Linked DNA regions of Homo sapiens. The protein of the gene in region 1 purifies or fractionates together with the protein of each later gene. This does not show direct contact. Each region holds a gene or a part of one and is shown on either strand. Other genes may lie near its edges.

What was found.
Region 2: the proteins of ZNF418 (region 1) and TRIM24 purify together in Homo sapiens (affinity purification with mass spectrometry; one large-scale study listed by BioGRID and IntAct). This does not show direct contact.

Annotation. Positions count from the first base shown.
Region 1 is NC_000019.10:57,925,190-57,929,074, forward strand, and holds part of ZNF418 (zinc finger protein 418), read right to left. Parts: intron 2,859-3,885; coding exon 961-2,858; 3' UTR 434-960; intron 1-433. UniProt on the Homo sapiens protein: Transcriptional repressor. May play a role as regulator of the ubiquitin-proteasome system and autophagy-lysosomal pathway.
Region 2 is NC_000007.14:138,575,259-138,578,758, reverse strand, and holds part of TRIM24 (transcription intermediary factor 1-alpha), read right to left. Parts: intron 2,387-3,500; coding exon 2,314-2,386; intron 1,340-2,313; coding exon 1,171-1,339; intron 1-1,170. UniProt on the Homo sapiens protein: Transcriptional coactivator that interacts with numerous nuclear receptors and coactivators and modulates the transcription of target genes.

The sequences.
Region 1 (3,885 bases):
GTGGCTCACGCCTGTAATCCCAGCATTTTGGGAGGCCAAGGAGGGCAGATCATGAGGTCAGGAGATCGAGACCATCCTGGCTAACACGGAGAAACCCCATTTCTACTAAAAATACAAAAAAATTAGCTGGGCATGGTGGTGGGCACCTGTAGTCCCAGCTACTCGGGAGGCTGAGGCAGGAGAATGGCGTGAACCCGGGAGGCGGAGCTTGCAGTGAGCTGAGATCACGCCACTGTACTCCAGCCTGGGCGACAGAGCGAGACTCTGTCTCAAAAAAAAAAAAAAAATATCACATGAGACCCATAAGGTCCCTGAAAAAGGTAGTCCATCTTTTCAAGCTGACAGAAGACCCCTCTGGACCAGTACTGAGACAGATCCATGGTCTCGCTCATCCGAAAGAAATGAGAAAGGAATGACAGCTGAGACTACTCACCAATTCCTCTGGCCAACGAAAGACAACCAAGGTTTACTTCCAGAACATCATGGGGTGAATGAATGATGCACAGTGAACACCTGCCTCGTGGCCGACATAAAATGGCTTTTGCCAGATAACCGACATCATGTCTGGCAAGGGAACCCGGCAGGGTGAAAAATGCCACACAGCTCCAACATAATTGAGTTTATGCAGATGCTGAAGGTATGTCAATTTAGGCAGATGGCTCCGTCATAAGGCATCTCCTCCAGTGTTATGTTTTACAAGAAATAATATTTCCTGTACGTGTACAGTGTTTTCCTTATGAGAACAATCTGTTATCCAATGACAGAAGGCAGAAGGCTTTCTCACATTCATCGCACTCAAGAGGCCCTTCTGCAGTGGGAGCTCTTCTGTATGTAATAAAACAAGACTTCTGCATAAAGAATATCCCACGTTTGTCACACTCATAAGGTCCTGATCCAGTAAGAACCCTCTGATCAAGAAGATGCACAGAGGTTTAGCTAAAGAATTTCCCAAATTTCTTTTCACTTGTAAGGACTTCTTTCTGTGTGAACTCTCTGATGTCGAAGGAGAGAAGAGCTTCGATGAAATGATTTTCCACATTCACTGCACTCATAAGGCCTTTCTCCAGTGTGTACTCTCCTGTGTTCAGTAAGACTGAAGGTTTCAGCAAAGGATTTCCCACATTCGCTGCACTCGTAAGGCTTTCCTCGAGTATGAAGTCTCTGATGTTTAAAATGCGCAGACCTTCGAGTAAATGTTTTTCCACATTCCCTGCATTCATAAGGCCTTTCTCCAGTGTGAACTCTCCTGTGTTCAAGGAGACTGGAGAAGAATTTCCCACATTCTCTGCACTCATAAGGTCTTTCTGCAGTGTGAGTTTTCTGATGTCGAAGGAGGGAAGAGCTCTGATGAAATGACTTTCCACATTCTCCACATTCATAAGGCCTTTCTCCAGTATGAACTCTCCGATGTCGAAGGAGGGAACAGCTTTGAGGAAATGACTTCCCACATTCACTACACTCAAACGGTTTTTCTCCAGTGTGAACTCTCTGATGAACACGAAACCCAGAGCTGTCTTGAAATGATTTCCCACATTCATTACATTCATATGGCCTTTCTCCAGTGTGAACTCTCTGGTGTTCAATGAGGTGGGACTTGCCCCTAAATAATTTCCTACACTCTCTACACTCATAAGGCCTTTCTCCAGTGTGGCTTCGCTGATGCTGAATGAGGTTGCCCTTTCGACTAAAAGATTTCCCACATTCTCCACACTCGTAAGGTCTTTCTCCAGTGTGACCTCGCTGATGGTTCCTAAGGTGTCCCTTTCGACTAAAAGATTTCCCACATTCTCCACACTCATAAGGTCGTTCTCTAGTGTGAACTCGATGATGTTCAGTTAGGGTGCCCTTTTGACTAAAACATTTTCCACATTCTTCACACTCATAAGGTCTTTCACTAGTGTGACCTCGTTGATGTTGAATGAGATTGCCCTTCTGAGTAAAACATTTCCCACATTCTTCACACTCATAAGGTCTTTCTCCAGTGTGAACTCGTTGATGTTTAATGAGAGTACCATTTTGACTAAAAGATTTCCCACATTCTCCACACTCATAAGGTCTTTCTCCAGTATGAACTCGCTGATGCTGAACAAGGCTGCCCTTATGACTAAAAGATTTCCCACATTCTCCACATTCATAAGGTCTTTTCCCAGTGTGAACTCGCTGATGCTGAACAAGGCTGCCCTTATGACTAAAAGATTTCCCACATTCTCCACATTCATAAGGTCTTTTCCCAGTGTGAACTCTCTGATGATTACTGACGCTATCATATTTGCTAAAGGATTTCCCACATTCCCAGCAATAACATTCCTCTCTAGAGGGAAGTCTCTGCTGTTGAACAAATACGTGTTTGGTGCTAGAATGTTTCATGCATTCTCCACAGCTGTAATGAGTATCTCCCCACTGAAAGGGAGACTCACACTCAGGTTTGCTGTTTGACTTCTCCCCAGTGTGAGTGGCCTCCTGCAGCAGTAATCCTGAGCTGGGCAAAAAGTCCTTTCCACTCTGAATGAAGATAGATGACTCCTCTGACACATGGAACTTACACCTCTTCACAAACAATGCTTCCTCAACACTGCTTCTATAGGGTTTCTCTCCAAGGTACTGATTCTGGTGCGGACGGTTTGAACTATCATACAATTTATTCCCCCATGCCTCACACCTGTGCAGTTTCTGCTTGTGATGTGTCCCCTGATGATCTGCCAAGTGCAAAATGTCTCCCAAGATCGCGCCACACATTTCACAAGAGTGGGCCTTCTTGGGAGACACACCTGCCCCAGGAGTGCTGACCTGAGACACTCTTTGTATAGAAATGCTCTTCTTAGAAGGTGCCTCCTCATCTTCTGATCCACACCAACAACCTGAAAGCAAGAAAATGCTGATGAATTCAAGTTAACTCTGGTGGGAAGGCACAGCCCACCCACAAGCGTGTCTGACAAACCAAGGAATTACTCCATGGAAATATTTGCAGGAACAGAAAGTTGGCTTCACGTGGAAGATGAGGCTATCATTACTGGGCTATAAAGGTCACAGAATGTCGGCCTCATGATATGAAGGGCATTAGCATACATGCAACACAGAGAATTGAGCCAAGGTCTACAATTTTTTTTTTCTTCTTGAGAGACAGGATCTCACTCTGTCATCCAGCACAGAGTGCAGTGGCATAATCTCTGTCTCCTGGGCTCAGGTGATCCTCCCACCTCAGCCTCCACAGTAGCTGGGACCACAGGCACAGGCCAATACGCCCAGCTACTTTTTGTAGAGGTGGGGTTTCGCCTTGTTGCCCAGGCTGGTCTCAAACTCCCAGGTTCAAGAAATCCACCCACATCGGCCTCCCAAAGTGCTGGGATTACAGGTGTAAGCCAATGCACCTGCTGTATAACTCTTTCCTTTGCAAACCACTTGTCTGCGGGAAATTATCTGATGACATGTTAATGCTATATAGAAGGCTATGTCCAGGCCTAAGAAAATGATTTACAAGACAACAGCTCTTGGTCAGAACAGTTTAACAATTTGCACACACTTGGCCGGGTGCGGTGGCTCACACCTGTAATCCCAGCACTTTGGGAGGCCAAGGTGGGTGGATCACGAGGTCAGGAGATCGAGACCATCCTGGCTAACACAGTGAAACCCCGTCTCTACTAAAAATACAAAAAAATTAGCCGGGCGTGGTGGCGGGCGCCTGTAGTCTCAGCTACTCGGGAGGCTGAGGCAGGAGAATGGCGTGAACCCAGGAGGTGGAGCTTGCAGTGAGCTGAGATCACGCCACTGTACTCCAGCCTGGGCGACAAAGAGAGACTCCATCTCAAAAACAAAAACAAAAACCAAAAACAAAACACAATTTGTACACACTTGCTAATACACAATGTGTATGCCAGTATCGGACAG
Region 2 (3,500 bases), on another chromosome or scaffold:
GTTAAAAGCACTTATTCCTTGGAAGAACTATTTTCAAACCTAGCTTTTTCTTCTGCTGTTTACCTCCATATTTCTAAATAAAATGATTGTTAAAAATTGCAATACATCTATAATCCTTACTAGTGAAGATCAGGAGATTAGGTTTTTACATTCTGATTCTCCAACCCCGTCCTGCTTCCATTCGTGCGTGCGCGCACACACACACACACACACACACACACACACAAAACCACCACCACCACCATTCACCCCATCCCTTTAACTTAGTTTTGATTAAGCATTGATTGTTTTAGTTGGTAGGTACTGGTATAACTGTTTATTGCCAGTATCTATTCTAACTGATCAGTATTTGTCTTGTACTGGTTAAGTATTCTGAAAATCACAATTTTTGGTTAAGTGCATATTCAGGTTATATCCTGATTGCATCACAGTTTTTAGTTACATTCGTACTCAGGTGTTTGTTTACATCATTATTATTATTATTTAAATATTGTTCACTGCAGACCCACAAAATGTACTAAGACATTTTTTGTACAACTTTTTGTTTTTACTAAGACTCTGTAATTACCTTATATTTTCAGTTGCTTATCTTTCTAGGTACCTATTTCTATGTTATTCTCACAATCTCCAACAGGAGATTCTCAATACTGTTGAAGCATTTTTCTCCCTTGGGAGTCCTATGTCTTCCTGCTACAGACTACTGCACAAGCTGCTGCTGCTGCTGTACTGGGGGTTGCCTTTTTCTTCTGTGTCAGATTCCATTTTTGGAATCTTATGTCTTCTTTCTTGTTTTACTATATTTTTGATGATTCATATTATCAAGTATCTTCCTGAGAATGAGTACATAAGAATTATTTTGAGAACTTGCACGAAAATGTTTAGTTAATCTTCAAGTCAATCTGATTGATAATTTGCCTGGGTATAAAACTCTGATTAAAGAAAGAATATCTCCTTTTAACTGCCCAGCCTCCATATCTGAGCCTCTGATTTTTAAAAACTTTCCTGTTTTTCCATCTTTGTCTTTTTGTTTAATTTACTGAGAGATTCCCTCAAATTGTCTTTAAATCCTTTTAAATATAACATTAAAAAAAAACTCCTAAGAGCTATTTAAAAGATTCTCTCACCCTACCCACCATGCATAGGAATAGCATTGCAAGCATTCATAATTACATTTTGAGGCCTAGATTCTTCATCTGATTCTTGCTTCACTATAACAACAGGGAAATCATAATTTTCCGGTGGTCCACTGTTTTCTTGTTTTATTCGAATTGGCTCCAGCATGACCACTGGGACTTTGTGTGTAGAGTCAGCTCCTGCTGGTTTGCTGGAAGAGCCAGAGCTGTAAGTATGAGAGAGAAGAAAAAGCAATCTAAGAATGTTAAGCTAAATACCTCATAAAAAGTATAACAACAACTTTCTAAAATACTGTATCTTCACAACAATAAGTATGTTAACATCAGCAATTAATGATGCATAACAAATGAAACTGGTGTATGCAAGTTTCATTTATGATAAAAATGTTTTACATATTAACCTATCTAAATAGTTATATATCTAGAAAGATGTTTCAATAAACCTAAACTTTTAAAAACCTGAGGCTTTACAATTAGGCAACCAGATTTAGTATCTTAGAACTGGCATCTGATTTTAGGCTTTCTCATTTCCTTCTCTAGTCAGTAGCAAAGTGAATACTTTGGTGAAGACAATGAAATAATCATGTATTTACACAATACTATTTAAAGAAGGTAGTGGGTCAAAAAGCTTTTACAGAGATTCACTATGTTCTCATGGGATTAAAGGCAAACTTTTCTCCCTCAGACAATTCTTCCATATGATAAAGTAAGAACTGGGTTCACTAGCTAGGAGGAATTTTCAGGCATAATGCAGGGAAGAGGAGAGCAGTTGCTTAAAATATAGAATTTCAATAACTGTATATTTATTTTAAAGTAGAATCAACATTTAGTCATTAGAGATCAAATTAGCATAAAATTTTATCTTTTCTCTAAATTTGTGTTTCTATATAGTGTACTGTGTTATGCCTATTCATTTTTATGTTTTCTTTGCTATTATATGAATATCCAACATTTCTTATTTTCAACATATTGACAAATATTCTTCTATCTTCAAAGGTAAATTTGTACTTTTGTTAATCCCTTAACTAATTCATTAAAATATATAGTAGTTATTAAAATTTTAATTAAAAATAAAGGAAATTGTTCAAAATATATTGAGTATCAAAACATGTTGAACACTGGCAAAAGAAATCTAATTAGAGATTTTTATATACTAGAAAATATGGTTTAGTCAGTTTACCTTCCTCGGCTTCCAACGCTGGAGGCACTAGGTGAACGTATTGGGGGGTGTACACTAGTCATAGTAACAGGTCCTGAGGAGGGGGAAACCATACATTCATAAAACGAATGAATAATTATGCATTGAAGTCCTGTTGAATGTGTTCACTTAGCACTACATTGAAACTGGGAACCATGATGAAATTCTATGAAACAGTAAGTAGTTGCTGAATTTTCAGCAGTCTGTTACAGCCTGTTACACCGGCAGGGTTTTTCAGCCTCTGCACTATTGACTTTTGGGCCAGATAATTCCTTGTTGTGGAGGAATGTCTCTGCATTTCAGGATGTTTAGCAACATCCCTGGCCTCCACCAATTATTAGATACCAGTGGCATCTCTCTATACTTCCCAGCTTGGGGTGTGACAATCAAAAACATCTCCAAACATTGCCAAGTCTTTCTGTGTTAGAGTAACAGGGGTAAGATCTCAGTGAGACCCTAGTGCCAGTGGAAGCTACAGAAGACAACGAAAGGTGGTACGGGCTGATAGAAAAGGAGTTCAAAAAAGAAAACCAAGTAAACAAAATTAAACCAACTAATGGAAGACACAGAAAGATCAATGGGTTCAGACTTAAGGCAATAAACAAAAGAGGGATTCTGGACTACTGCCCTAAAAAGATTAAGAAGCTATGCTCTGGTGGTAGTGTAGACTGGAACAAGGAAGATCTAATTAAAAGCAGCCAAGAAAGAAGGAAAACTGTTGCAAATAATTGATTTGAACTGATGAAGGCCCAAACTAAACAGTAACAAGTAGGAATACAATGAAAGTGGGAAGTAGAAAAAAAATTCCGAATTGACAGAAGTTCTAAAAGGTTTGATGAACAACAGGATGTGGCTGATAAAATGAAGATTATCATTTCATTGGTTTGTAAACTCTGGAGAATTTAATTTAAAAATAAAAGGCCTGGACAACAAAGACCCGTCTCTAACCAAAAAAAAAAAAAAAAAAATTAGCCAGGCCTGGTGGCACCTACCTGTAGTCCCCACTACTGGGAAGGCTAAAGCAGGAGGATCACTAGAGCCCAAGCGTATGAGGCTGCAGTGAACCATGATTGCTACACCCTGGGCAACAGAGTGAGACCCTGCCTCAAAATCAATCAAAACAATGGCTATTTATAATCTCCTGATAATATAAGAATACATGCTTCATT